2 linked regions of the Homo sapiens genome follow. The protein of the gene in region 2 interacts with the protein of the main gene of each other region in a pairwise test. Each region holds a gene or a part of one and is shown on either strand. Other genes may lie near its edges.

Region 1 (7,265 bases), on a different chromosome or scaffold from region 2:
CTTTCTTTGTGTCTCCCTTAGTCCCCTCCTCCCATCACCCACTTTCCAAAAAAAAAAGCCAATTTCCATCCCATGGCAGGCCTTGGTGGGGAGGGAATGAACTCTCCGGAACTACAAGGCCCTTCTCCTGGAAGAGAGAGCAGTCAGGTGCAGAGTGTGTGGGGAACTCAGCCTCTAGTCTGCCACGCTGATGACTCAGAAGCTAAATATAGCGAGCGATATAAACAGAGCCAGCCACAGAGCAAACACAGGGCCCCCAGCCCCGGCGCTGGCTCTCACGCACTCTGGCTCTCCGCAGTCCCTCCCCCAGCCTCATTCTTCCCCTGGCACTGTCCTAGGTGGGCCTCCCACTCCTGGGACAGAGGCTGGCTTCCTAGGGACCCATCTCACTCTATAGCAAACCTCTGGGGCCCCTGCCCGGGGCTGTCCCATCTAGACGCTGAGCAACCTAGTTAGCCAGCTTAAGTTCCAGAAAACCACTCACTAATAACTAGAGAATCCCAAAGTGTCAGGAAGCAATCAGGGGCTCCCTGAACAAAGGATCCAGTCTGCTAGGCAGAGAAGCTGCTAGTTAATAAACCATGCAAACACCAACTCGGGTACAACTTCCAAAAGAGCTCCCCAAATTACAAAGTCAGGTCCAAGCAAAATCCTAAAGTCATCTTTTAACATATTTCTAAAAGTACTCAACTGTCCCTGACTTAATAGTTATTTGTATCACAACTCCTAAAGGCCCTTCACATCAACTAGGCAAGGTAAGTATTAGAAACCAAGACTAAGCCGGGTGCAGTGGCTCACACCTGTAATCCCAGCACTTTGGGAGGCCGAGATGGGCGGATCGCCTGAGGTCGCGAGTTCAAGACAAGCCTGACCGACATGGAGAAACCCCGTCTCTACTAAAAATACAAAAATTAGCCAGGCATGGTGGTGCATGCCTGTAATTCCAGCTACTCAGGAGGCTGAGGCAGGACAATCACTTGAACCCGGAGGCAGAGGTTGCAGTGAGCCGAGATCGCACCACTGTACTCCAGCTTGGCAAGAAGAACGAAACGCTGTCTCACCAAAAAAAAAAAAAAAAAAAAAAGGCTTGGAGAGATTACATGATTTGCCCACGAACACATAACTTATAAGTGGCAGAGCTGGGATTTTAACAGATCTGCCTACAAGTCTAGGATCCTTTTTGTGATATTACAGCTAAAGATGGTTTCAACTGAGTGGCTGAAAGTTTTCTCAGATTTCATTTGCCAAAAAGTCTAATTACTATTCAGAGATTTCCAAACCCGGCTTTTCTGAATGGAGCCACTCCTGGTCCAAGTGAAAAAGCCATTTCCAACATGAAGAATTCCAACCCTCCTGTAGCTTTACTCACTCGACTGTTTACAGTAACTACTGTTTTTGAGGATTCTTGGCTTCTTAACATTGCCCAGAAATACCCCCAAATGTCATGATGGGCCACTGGGACAGAAGACTCTCCCAAGGGGAGGGGATACCACTTCCTGCCCCTCCTTAGGCTCGTGCTGAATGAGGCCATGGCACAAGGACAGGAAAGCTGGGGCTCAGACCTTCTGGCCAGGGCAGCCCAGGGGCTCAGGGAGGAAGTACATCTGCACCATGCTCTTCCATGCAGAAGCTGGACACAGAAGCACCACAGCACCACCCTCAAGATAAGTCATTATCAGCAGACCATCGGGGGTCCCTGCCACAGTTTGTCAGCTCACAGAGGAGCAAACAGGGGAACCTTCACTCCTGCCCCGGCCAAAGGAAGGTGGGATGTGTGGTGAGGTTCTGAAAGGTTTTTACCTCCACTCACTCTGCCTCCAACTCTCTTGCTGCTTTGGAGACACAAAGAGCTGAGGCGGAGCACCCTGCTAACTCTGATCTTCTGCCTCCGGTTTTTTGCCTGTGGATCTGGAAGAGTCACCCTGAACTGGTAACTCGGGTGACCAGGCTAGTCCTCCACCTAGCAAGGCTCTTGGGAAATGCGCTGAAAGTGCAGATGGCCCACGTAAAACGACACCCAGGGAAACTTGGAACCTGTTGCATCTGGAGCCAGGTCGATACACTCAATTGGGATTTCATGGCATCAGCACGCCCCCTCCCTCTGCTCCATACCTCCAAGGGAGAAGGTCGTTCTGGTGCAAAAAAACGAGTAACTCAGGTCTGTAACCAGGGACAAAAAGGGGGAGTGCACACTCTCCACAGGACTATGGACCAGTGGCCACTGTCTAGCCCCAGGACACTATCCCAGATGTAGGGGAAAGGTGACGGTCAGGCCTCCTCAAGTCCCATCTGCCTCTAGGGTTGCTTTTCTTGGCTCTCTAAATCCAGCCCGCAATGATGGGGAATGACTATCATTCCCTGAAGAGAAATCGATAAGGCCAAGGTCCACAGATGATCAGTCTGGACACTAATTCCTCTGGACCAGGCAGGTGGAGGGAAGTTCAGGGGAGGCAGCTCTGCTCAGGGAGTCCCCTGCCAGGTGGAGTGGGAAATGAATTGTGAACCAACAAGAACAAACGTCGGGGGTGATCAGGATCATAAACAGAAAGAAGGAAACAGGCATTAAAGAACATCTACTGTGTGTCCCAAACTCTCATAGGTATTTTCTCACTTAATTATCACAGTAAAATTCTGTGGTATTAGCACTAATTCATAGAAGAGGAAATAGGCTCAGTGAAGTCAAGTGACTTCCTGAAAACTAGTAGATGGCAGAGCTGGTATTCAAACCTGGGCTTTCTGACTCTGAACCCAAAGCCTAGAAACTAAATCCTAAATAACCTCCTTCCCACTGCCTCAGTTTCTCTGCCTGCAAAAATGAGGGAAGGGAATAGGGAAAGAAGATAAAGGATAAGAATGGAGGAGTGACAACAGTACTTTCTAGATATGAAATCTTAGACTGTAGTTTATATAAGAATCAAGCTTAGAAAATGACTCACTTCTCAAAACCAGCTGCTGAAACGTTCCAGGAGTACCAGTGTTCCACCTGCCTGAAGCCATCACCTTAGCCCTTCCTGCAGGATGAGTTCCTGGTGAAGGTCTATAAGTAGGGTCAGTGGGGAGGAGGGGGTTAAAAGCAAGAAGACTCTGGGGAGAACTGTTTAAGGAGAAGACAAAACCCTGGCTCTTTGTACTGGAAAATTTGGGAAAACCAGCTCTTTGAGCTAGAAAAGGCTCACTGGTCAGCCTCCTACCCTTGTAAGTAAGAAGTAGGTAGATGGCAGGAGGGTAGGGGTACAGGAAACCTGGGAGCCAGTGTGGAGTAAGGTGCAAGGCAGAGGAGACTCTCATGCCTTGCACCTCCACTTTCCTTCTCCCCAGCTTGGGTGGCTCTGGCTAAAAGCACAACACCTTGTCTAAAACTAACCTGTGCATGCAAAGAGGCAGCTCTGAACTGGGAGAAGTGATGCCAACCAGCAAAAAGCAGGGCAAGGCAGGCGCAGTGGCTCACGCCTGTAGTCCCAGCACTTTGGGAGGCCGAGGCAGGTGGATCATCTGAGGTCAGGAGTTCGAGACCAGCCTGGCTGACATGGCGAAACCCCGTCTCCACTAAAAGTACAAAAATTAGCCAGGTGTGGTGGTGCGTGCCTATAATCCCAGCTACTCGGGAGGCTGAGGCAGGAGAATCGCTTGAACTGGGGAGGCAGAGGTTGCAGTGAGCCGAGATCATGCCACTGCACTCCAGCCTGGGCGAAAGAGCCAAAAAAAAAAAAAAAAAAAAAAATCAGGGCCAGACCTTGGGATAAGGGCCTCCTCCTCCTCCTGTTCAGGACCAAGTTAGGAGGGCCCCCAGGACTGTATCCTAGTCCTGTGCCAGGGAGGGCTCCCGGCCTATTCCCAAGCCTATAGAGGCTCACCAGTGGATGGGGGAATATTCTGGGGAATAACTGGTGAAAGAGATCAGATTATTGCAAATGAAGCAAGCTGCCTTCCACGGAGCCCGCTAGATGAGTCTAAAAGAGCCACAGCCACTGTGTCCTCCCATCCTCTCCAGTACCAGGACTGGAAGCTGTGAGCTGGGCTCAGCCGTAGGCCTGTACAACCACGGTGGAGTGAATGGGCAGGAAGGAGGCCAAGAAACTGAAAACAAGAATCAGAGTGAGTCCACACATGGACTGAAGGGGAAACTCGAAGCCAAGTTTCCACCAAATAATCAAAGGAGAGAGTAAGAACTGGAGCTTAGATCTATTATCTAAGCATAGGGCCACCCTCCCTTCCTGATCACTAAGGGACTGGGAGGACTTACCAGGCCCAGACCTGGCCCCAAACTGTCCTTAGAACTCCTTGGCAGAGGGCACTAACCATATGTAACCCGCAATGTCCTGTTCTTAGGAAAGCCAAGGTCAATTCCTCTTCCCCTGGCACTGGTAATGGTTTGACCCTTAAGTCAACCTACCAATAGCTCTCCTCCGACCACCTGAAGCTACCCTTCTAACCTCGGAGTCTGCCCAGTCATGGTCAAGCTATTTATTCCCTTGATTTCCTCGCAGTCAGACACACAAACACACATTCAGAGCCAGCTGGGCTGGGGACACAGTCCCAGAAGTACAGAATGTGTTCGCTTCCAGGTGGCATGCCTGTGCTTCAGCTGTGGCTGTACCAGCACGGATGCAGCCTCAGGCTCCTCTCCCAGCCTTGGCAGCCATCCAGAAAGCCAGCCCGAAGAGGAAGGGTTAAGTGCCTGGGGACCCAGCCCAGACAGCGGCTGCTGGAACAGGGAAGGCAGCCTCCAGGCCATGGCACAGAGGGCTCCTCCAGCACGAGCCTGCCAGCCGCCGCCTTTGTTGATGGACTCTGCCACATGCTCGGCTGACACGTGATGCCCCGCCCTGGCGGGGCTGGTGCCAGGCTGCCGGCCAAGCGCCCGGCTGAGCGCCCGGCTGGCCGCCGGTCTGGGGAGCCTCTCCGAGGTACACTCTCCGGAGTCCCAGACCCTGGTTCCCAGACAGAGACAGTGAGGAGCGGCCTCCCCAGCTGGAAAGTGTCAGGTTTCAACCGGTTCCACCACTTTCCCCAACTCAGGCCCCATCCCTTGGCCTGGTTACCCGTTTCCCACTGTACCTTAGCCAGGCACCCCCCAACTGCCCAGTTTCATTGCAGCACCCGGAAAATCTTCCTCTTAGGTCCGTGAGGGGCAACCCCTCAGCCACGGCCATAAGAAGAGACAGGTTGTCAAGCAGAGCTGCAGAAAGCCATCCTATTCCCAGACTGTAGCCTCTCCCGAGAGGGCTCTTATGGAACATGAATTGAGACTGGGCAGTTAACCAATGTGGAGCTCAGAGATGAGGGCAAGATGCTTAGCCAGTTAGGCCCCTCCTGCCCATGGGAACCGCCATAACCAAAACTCTGGGACAATATCCTTGAGGTCTGGCAGAGACAGAGTTGCTGACAAGAGGAGAGAGGCAGGCCCTGGCCCCCAAGCCCCAGCAGACTCAACCCTCCTCCCCTAAACCCCCGTGCCTACTTGCTGCACATGAAGCCGGTGGAACTGGTCTGCAATGCACTGAAGCTTTCGGGCAATCTGTACCTCTGCTTGATGTTGCCACTGCCCTTCGGGGGGCTGCTCCCCAATGGGCAAGACTGCTGGGAAACTGGCAGGGAGAGGAAGCCGATAGCCAGCATTGCCTGCAAAGATAGAGGATCCACATCTCAGCATTCTCCACAACTGCTCCAACCTCCCTACGCCTGCCTGACCTGGCCAAGATTGGAGGCTGAGGGTAAATCCTCATATGAGAAAGGATAGGAGCCAGCCTGCCTCTATTGGAGCACTCTGCCAAGCTTGGACAGCCTGCTGCCCAAGTGCATAAAAGTTGCAGAACAGAAAGAATGGCCCCAGCCTTCTCTTCGCTTCTCCATTCACTGACAGTGCCATGACAAAGGGCAGGTGGTAACGTGTGCAGGCGAACATGCCAGCCTTCCGTCCTTATTTATCAAGCTACCCTTAACCACAGTTGGTTATTCACGTAGTAGCAGGTTGAAGCTCTTCTCTGGAAAAGCACTGGAGGTAGCTCTCCAGTTTCTGGGTTGAGCAAAGTAAGAGGCAGAGCAAGAAAAAATCAAAAAGTGTCTTCACTTTTTTAGTGCAGTAGAGTAAGGCTGGTCTCCCGAAGCTCCTGGGCAGCAGCACAAAAAGAGGGAGAGAAAACTGAGACGCACAGAGCTGCCAAGTTGCTCTCCGGAGACAGCCCCAGGCAAGACCTCTAGACCAGCGCTCCACACTTACCCAGTGCACGCGTTAGAACCACCGCTAGGGGCGCCAGTCCGCCGGGCTCCTCGCTCCTTTCCCTCTTCCCCGCCTGCCCGCCTTATCCAACTTCTCAGACTCCCGCCAGAACTGCTTTGCCAGAACTGCCCTAAGGGGCAGTTCCCTCTGGGAGTAACTGCAGTGTCTCCTCAATCAGCTCGTCAGACACAGTAAGCCACGCTCCTAGCCTTTACCCTCCCTCCATAAGCTGCAGTGCTAATAGAAGAAAACAGACTGTCTAACCCTGCCCTTTTGCCAGAGGAGGGCATATTTCTCATAAAACAAACTATTTAAGCCCACAAATGAAGGGGTCTTGTCTTAGCCTTGGAAGCATCCCCTCTCCTGGCATTGGGCCCAGGCAGGCCCAACCTCTTTCTCCAGTTCCCCTTTCACACACAGAAAGTCCCATGTGGCAACTGGGGGCCACCTTCTGCCTTTGGGAACCCTCCCTCCCAGAACCGGCTGGGTTTTTCCCTTCATTGTCAACAGCCAGTCACAGATCCCCCAGACTTCTCCAGGGCAACAGGAGCCACTTTATAGTAGGCAAGTCACTGCTAGGACACTAAAGGCCAGGCCACTCAAGGGGCACAAGATGTAAAAGGAGATACCATGGACCCAAGGATCCCTCCAGGAGGGGACAATTTGCCCTTTGGGGGGTCTGAGGCACAGGTGAGGAGCAATAACAAGCCGAGAGGCAGCAGGTGGAAGTCAAGGAATCAACAGCCCCGCTGATCACTTTGGGGGAAGGAAACAGCAAAGGGCAGGTTTGGGGAGGGAAAGTCCCCTCTTTTCCCCCAGTCTCTATGGGAGGAGTCTTGAGGCTGAGAGCACTCACCATAAAAGAGTCGCTGGGGTTCCTCAGTCACCCCACAAGGCAGCATGACACCTTGGCTGGGGGAGGCTGGGCTGAGAGTCTGGGTAGCTTTGTCTTCCTGGCTGGTGGGTCGAAGGCCAGGGCCACAGCAGTGGGTGAGAGGGAAGAGCTGAAGTCGGCTGAGGGGGCAGTCCAGTAGGCTCTGGGCAA
Region 2 (7,836 bases):
AATCTCAGCTCACTGCATCCTCCACCTCCCAGGCTCAAGTGATCCTCTCACCTCAGCCTCCTGAGTAGCTGGGATTACAGGTGCTCGGCAGCTCACCCGGCTAATTTTTGTATTTTTTGTAGAGATGAGGTTTCGCCATGTTGCCCAGGCTGGTCTTGAACTCCTGAGCTCAAGAAATCTGCCTGCCTCAGCCTCCCAAAGCACTGGGACTATAAGTGTGAGCCATCGCATCTGGCTTGTTATTATTTTTTTAGACTGCTGCTGTAATTCCTAGAAGAAACTGCTTCTCTAGCATTCGCTAAATCCACTTCCTTAAGTGTTTGCTGGGCACCTGCTCAGTGCACTAGGGCACCTCGGTTCCTTTAGGGGACAACAGAGCCCTGTCCTCGGGGAACTGGAGGTACACCCAAAGGCAAGTACTGAAAACAGTGCTCTGCAACATCTGCCCCAAGGGCTGGCCAGGCCAGAGGCCTGAGGATGTCCTGGCTGTTAACTGTAACCTCACCTGGACTCTGTGCCCACCTGTTGCCTCATCCTTGCTTGACAGATGAAGAAACTGAGGCTCAGTGGGGTTTTGTGCTGTGCTCATACACAGGGGAGCTCAGATTCTAGTCAGAGCAGGCTGATTCCAGACCCTGTGTTTTTTGTTTTTTTGTTTTTTTTTTTTTGAGACGGAGCTTCACTCTTGATGCCCAGGCTGGAGTGCAATGGCGGGATCTCGGCTTACCGCAACCTCTGCCTCCCGGGTTCAAGCGATTCTCCTGCCTCAGCCTCCTGAGTAGCTGAGATTACAGGCATGTGCCACCAAGCCAGCTAATTTTGTATTTTTAGTAGAGACAGGGTTTCCCCATGTTGGTCAGGCTGGTCTCGAACTCCCGACCTCAGGTGATCTGCCTGCCTCGGCCTCCCAAAGTGCTGGGATTACAGGTGTGAGCCACCGGGCCCGGCAAGCCTGTGTTCTTTACTACCCTACAGCTCCATTCCCTCAAAGTCTCCCACTCCTCTCCTGAGACCCTCCTTCCTTCCCTCCCTTTCTGCGTCCCCTGACCCCTGCAAGCCTCACCTCGCAGCCAGCGCAGGAGGAAGTAGTCATCAGCATTGGGCAGTATGGGCAGCAGGTCCTGGAGGTTCTCCCGGAACTGAGCGGAGGAGGATCTGATGGTCGGCGGAGCTCTCATGACCTCGGGGGCCACCAACCCCGCCCCTAACCCTTCCCACATCATCCACCAGTCAACTCCACCAGAAGACCATGCAGGGTGCTGCCCTGAACGACTTTGCCATCTGAAAATAGGGCACCCTCCAGCCCAACATAGGAAAAAGAGTTGGGTCCTTCCCAAAATTTGGGAGTGCCCTACACACTGGACTCCCATTCTACATGTCTAAGGTGGGGCCCTGGCATCCTTATTTTTAATTTTTATTTTATTATTATTTTTATATTATTATTATTATTATTATTATTATTGAAACAGGATCTCACTCTATCGCCCAAGCTGGAGCGTAGTTGCGTGATCTTGGCTCACTGCAACCCGTGCCTCCCGGGTTCAATAGATCCTCCCAGCTCAGACTCCCAAGTAGCTGGGACCACAGGCACACAAGATGCCCAGCTAATTTTTGTACTTTTTGTAGAGATGGGATCTTGCTATGTTGCCCAGGCTGGTCTCAAACTCCTTGGCTCAAACAATCCACCCGCCTTAGTATCCCAAAGTGCTGGGATCACAGGCGTGAGCCACCATGCCCGACTGACAGCCTTATTTCTACAAGGATCCCTGGGAGAGTCTGATGCAGGCCAGCTAGGCGGTTTTAGGAATGTTGTCCCTGATACTGCATCTTGAGGGTTTAGATTTAGAGGCAAGTTACCAAACCTCTCTAAGCCTCAGTTTCCTTATCTCTGAAATGGGGATAAAAATAAACTTGTACCAATCAAAGGAGTCTGTGCACGTAAAACACTTAGCAGGCTTGGCTCCGAGCAGGTGTCAGATATATGTGAGCACTCAGCCAGCGTGGACTGCCTGATGCCCCGGACAATGGAGGCTTTGTGGAAAAAAAACAGAGGCAGAGGTCAACAGACAGGGGCTGAAAGAGAAGCCAGGAATGCCTTATCAGGGCATCTGTTGCGTCTGAGAGAGAGGAGATCTCACTTCCCTGGGGACCAACAGAGCTGAAGGCAAAGGCTGGGTTTGAAGGTGAATCTGTGAATCCAAATTTGGGATTAGAAATATGAGGCCGGGCGCAGTGGCTCACACCTGTAATCCCAGCACTTTGGGAGGCCAAGGCGGATGGATCACAAGGTCAGGAGTTCGAGACCAGCCTGTCCAAGAGACCTGCCTGGCCAATATGGTGAAACCCCGTCTCTACTAAAAATACAAAAATTAGTCGGGTGTGGTGGCGGGCACCTGTAGCCCCAGCTACTTGGGAGGCTGAGGCAGGAGAATCGCTTGAACTCAGGAGGTGGAGGTTGCAGTGAACCGAGATTGCGCCATTACACTCCAGCCTGGACGACAGAGCAAGACTCCATCTCAAAAAAAAAAAAAAAAAAGATTACAGAGAAGCTTGGGCCCTAAGAACAAATCACAAAGAGAAGCCAAACAAACAAATGTTGCAACCTGGACATGAAAAGCAGTCTGTCTACCCAAGGCTGCCCCCGCAGCCGGATGGCAGCGCCACTCCCTCCCCCACAACCGGGGAACAAGGACCAGGGCCGGGTGGTGGAGAGCACGCAAGGTCAGAAGACTGGATTCGGCTCCTGGTCACGCAGAGATGGGCCCCTGTCCCGCGTGCTGCACGTAGCCGCCTCAACAACCGCACGCTGGACCAGAGGGCAGAACAGAGGCGCTCTCTCCAGGCTCGGTGTTCCAGTCTGTACCATGGGGGCTCCAGCCGGGTTGGGCAGTGCCAGGCTGCTCAGGGCCCCTCCTCAAGCCTCCCAGCCCGCGATGCTCCTCACCCTGGCCAGCGCTTCCTGCTGCTGGGGGCTCAGGTCCCCGACTCGGCTGCTCATGGTGCCCGCGGGCGCAGAAAGGCTCAGGGCGCAGGTCCGCCCGCCCGCCGCCGCCTGGCCTTGTATCCGCTGCCGCCTGGTTGTGCCTCCTGGGCCAGATGTTGGTCCCGCCCCGACGGGAGAGGCACTGGGCCTGCCCCGCCCCGCCCAGTTCTCTCCTCCTCTCCAGGATTTTTTGCTGCGGTCACCAAGCGCACCCTACTTGGGACAGGGAGGTGACCTGCCGGGAGAGTGGCCTGGGGCAGCTGGAGGCAGCCACCTCCAGGCCTCCTTACTGCGGGGGCTCCCGCCTGTTCGCAGGTGGCAGGAAAGGGAATACACTGAGATCCTCTTTCCAGCAAAATGGAGGAAATTTTTTTTTAAATGTTTTTTTTTTTTTGGGCCAGGCGCGGTGGCTCACGCCTGTAATCCCAGCACTTTGGGAGGCCGAGGCGGGCGGATCACGAGGTCAGGAGGAGATCGAGACCATCCTGGCTAACATGGTGAAAACCCGTCTCTACTGAAAATACAAAAAATTAGCTGGGCGTGGTGGCGGGCGCCTGTAGTCCCAGCTACTCGGGAGGCTGAGGCAGGAGAATGGCGTGAACCCGGGAAGCGGAGCTTGCAGTGAGCCGAGATCGCGCCACTGCACTCCAGCCTGGGTGACAGAGTGAGACTCCGTCTCAAAAAAAAAAAAAATTTTTTTTTTCTTTTTCTTATTTTGAATAAAATAGAGACCGGGTTTTGCTATGCTGACCAGGCTGGTCTGGACCTCCTGGCCTCAAGCAATCCTCCAACCTCCGCCACCCAAAGTGCTGGGATTAGGGATGTGAACCACCATACCTGGCCAACATGGAGGAATTTTTAATAAACCTGGCTCAACCCTCTAGGACCCCCAGGGCTTTTGTCTAATGACCCCCAAGCTCCTTCCCCTGACCTTGAACACAGCCTGGGACCTGTCAGTGCTCACTGACTGATAGGACAGCCTCATGTGCAAAATGGTTCCTGCCCTCAAGATGGTTGGAAGGATAAGAGGACGCACCCTGGGTCAGCAGAATGTCTGGCGTTGCCTGCTCAGTAAGTGCTGGCTGGTAGGAATATATTTCAGAATTGTGTTATTACTGAGGCTGTCACCAGAGCTGGGAGCTGCAGGGGTGGAGATCCTAGGGTGTCCCAAGTGCGGAGCTCCTGGGTGAGAGCCACAGTCTGAAGGTGGAGGCATGCAAGGTGCCAGCCGTGGACCAATGGAAGCCCTGGGCAGAGTGACAGAGTGGGCGGAGAGCCAAAAGGCCACTCTGGCTGACACAAGAGAGCCAGGCGGAGATCACTAGGAAAAGCAAGAAAAAAGTTCAGCCAGGCGCGGTGGCTCATGCTTGCAATCCTGGCACCTGGCACTTTGGGAGGCCAAGGCAGGCGGATCACTTGAGGTCAGGAGTTTGAGACCATCCTGGCCAACATGGTGAAACCCTGTCTCTACTAAAAATACAAAAATTAGCTGGGTGTGGTCGTCCACGCCTGTAGTTCCAGCTACTCAGGAGGCTGAGGCACAAGAATTGCTTGAACCTGGGAGGTTGAGGGTGCAATGAGCCAAGATGGCACCACTGCATTCCAGCCTGGGCGACAGAGCCAGATTCTGTCTCAAAAAAAGAAAACAGAAGTTGGCTGGGTGTGAATTTTCAAGAGAGGAGTAGAGGGGACGTGAAGATGAAGGAGAGAGTAAAACAGGCCACAAGACCCTGTTCCCTCTGTCCTCCCATGGAATCAAACCAAGCTCTAGTCCCGAAAGGACTAACCCAGTGGCCGTGAGCCACAGAGGCTTTTGAGCCCAGACAACGTGGCTTGTCATAACAAGCATAGAGACATGCTGTAATTGTAAAATACAAACCAAGTTTTGATGGCTTAGTACCAGAAAAAGTAAAATGTTTCATTAACTAATTTTATTTATTTATGTACTGAGACAGCATCTCACTCTGTCACCCAGGTTGGAGTGCAGTGGTGCAATCATGGCTCACTGCAGCCTTGACCTCACGGGCTCAAGTGATCCTCCCACCTCAGCCTCCTGAGTAGCTGGGACTACATTCTCACCCCACCACACCCGGCTAATTTATTTTTATTTTTATTTTTATTTTTTTATAGACACAGGGTTTTGCTATGTTAGCCAGGCTGGTCTCAAACTCCTGAGCTCAAGCCATCCATCTGCTTCAGCCTCCCAAATTGCTGGTATTACAAGCGTGTGCCACTGCTCCTAGCCTCATTAATTAATTTTATATAAATGATTATATATTAAGTGATATTTTTGAATATAATAGGACAATAAAATATGTTATTAATATTACTTTCACCTGTTTCTTTTGATGTTTTAATAATTTTGAATTATTTATAATGATAATTTTTTTTCTTTTTTTAAGACAGGGTCTCAATGTGTCACCCAGGCTGGAGTGCAGTGGCAAAATCTCCGCTCACTGCAAGCTCCACCGCCCCCCACCCCTGAAGCTCAAGCAGTGCTCCCACCTCAGCCTCCCCAGTAGCAGGGACTGCAGATGTGCATCTCCACATCCGGCTAATTTTTGTATTTTTTTGAAGAAAAATACAAAACATGGTTTTGCCATGCTGCCTAGGCTGGTCTCAAACTCCCGAGCTCAAGCGATCCTCCCGCCTCAGCCTCCCAAAGTCCTGGGATTATAGGCATGAGCCACAGTGCCCAGCTAAATTGTTATTTTTTAGGACAGTTTTAAGTTCACATCAAAACTGGGCAGAAAGTACAGAGTTCCCACATATCTGCTGTCCCCATACACACACAACCTCTGGTTCCAGAGATATCCATTTGCTGAAATTGATGAGCCTACACTGACACGCTAATATCACCCAAAGTTCCTAGTTTACATTAGGGCTCATTCTTGGTGTTGGATATTCTATGGGTTTTGACAAATGTATAATGACATGTGTCCACCATTGTGGTATCACGCAGAATAGTTTCACTGCCCTAAAAATCCTCTGTGCTCCTACCTATCCTTTTTACTTAAAAAAAAAAAAAATGTAGCCACTGGGGCTGGGCGTGGTGGCTCACGTCTGTAATCCCAGCACTTTGGGAGGCTAAGGCGGGTGGATCACCTGAGGTCAGGAGTTTGAGACCAGCCTGGCCAACACGGCGAAACCCTGTCTCTACTAAAACTACAAAGATTACCTGGGCATGGTGGTGCACGTCTGTAATCCCAGCTACTCGGGAGGCTGAGGTAGGAGAATCACTGAACCCGGGAGGCGGAGGTTCCGGTGATCTGAGATTGCGCCATCACATTCTAGCCTGGGAGACAGAGCAAGACTCCATCTCAAAAAAAAAAAAGTAGCCACTGGAAAGATTTAAAATTACACGTATGGGCTGGGCATGGTGGCTCACACCTGTAATCCCAGCACTTTGAGAGGCTGAGGTGGGCGGATCGCTTGAGCCCAGCAGTTTGAGACCAGCCTGGGTAACATAGTAAAACCCCGTCTCTACTAAAAACACAAAAATTTGCCAGGCATGATGCTGTGCGCATGTAATCCCAGCTACTCAGGAGGCTGAGACAGGAGAATCACTTGAACCCAGGAGGCAGAGACGGGGGTTGCAGTGAGCTGAGATCATGCCACTGCACTCCAGCCTGGGTGACAGAGTGAGATTCGGTCTCAAAAAATAATAATAATAATAAATAAAATAAAATTACATTTATGGATCACATTTATGACTTGCATTATATTTAATTTGAACATTGTTTGCCCTATAGAGATTTAAAATATGTTTTTAGAAAAAGAAAGTAAATCATAAAAAATGCTAAAAGAAAGTAAAAGTGACACCACATCTCTGGAAGGGCATGGTCTGTGTTTAAAAACAATGACAGAATCACAAAGGGAAAATGAATTGATTTGACTACAAAATACAAAAATCTATTAAACAAGAAACAGAATTAAGACATTTATCAGAGTCGGGCGCTGTGGCTCACGCTTGTAATCCCAAACTTTGGGAGACTGAGGCGGGCGGATCAGGAGATCAGGAGTTCAAGACCAGCCTGGCCAACACAGTGAAACCCCGTCTCTACGAAAAATACAAAAATCAGCTGCGCATGGTGGTAGGTGCCTATAATCCCAGCTACTCGGGAGGCTGAGACAGGAGAATCACTTGAACCTGGGAGGCAGAGGTTGCAGTGAGCTGAGATCATGCCACTGCACTCCAGCCTGGACGACAGAGCTAGACTCCATCTCAAAAAAAAAAAAAAAAAGACATTTGTCAGTATTTGCTGATGGAAATTTGGGAAAAATAAAATGTACAAAAATTCAAGTTGATAAGAAAAATAGGAAGGCCCTAAGAAATAAATGGGCAAAGGATTCAAAGCACCAATTCTTAGGAATGAAAATGCTCAGGGTGTATTTATCAAGTGGATGAATGCCCAATCTCCAGAGTCATCAATGAAATGTGTATTCAAGTAATGAGATGCATTTTTCTCTGAAAAATCAGCAAAAACAAACAACACACACACACAGACACACACACACCTTTTAAGAAAAAACTACAAAATTAGCTGGGTGTGGTGGGGTGAGACTGTAGTCCCAGCTACTCAGATAATAGGCCAGGCACAGTGGCTAACACTTGTGATCCCAGTACTTTGGGAAGATCTCTTGAAGCCAAGAGTTCGAGACCAGTCCAGGCAACATAGTGGGACCTCGTCTCTACAAAAAATTAAAAAACTAGCCAGGCGTGGTGGCATGCTCCTGTAGTCCCAGCTACTTGGGAGGCTGAGGAGGGAGGATCACTTGAGCCCAGAAGGTGGAGGCTGCAGTGAGCTATGATTGTGACACTGCACTCCAGTCTGAGTGACAGAGGGAGACCC

The links.
Region 1: the proteins of SEC14L4 (region 2) and BMF interact in binary tests that used the Homo sapiens proteins (3 or more experiments, as listed by UniProt).

The regions. Positions count from the first base shown.
Region 1 is NC_000015.10:40,098,719-40,105,983, forward strand, and holds part of BMF (bcl-2-modifying factor), read right to left. Parts: coding exon 7,077-7,265; intron 5,623-7,076; coding exon 5,462-5,622; intron 1-5,461. UniProt on the Homo sapiens protein: May play a role in apoptosis. Isoform 1 seems to be the main initiator.
Region 2 is NC_000022.11:30,502,614-30,510,449, forward strand, and holds the start of SEC14L4 (SEC14-like protein 4), read right to left. Parts: upstream 3,083-7,836; 5' UTR 2,999-3,082; coding exon 2,945-2,998; intron 1,140-2,944; coding exon 1,064-1,139; intron 1-1,063. UniProt on the Homo sapiens protein: Probable hydrophobic ligand-binding protein; may play a role in the transport of hydrophobic ligands like tocopherol, squalene and phospholipids.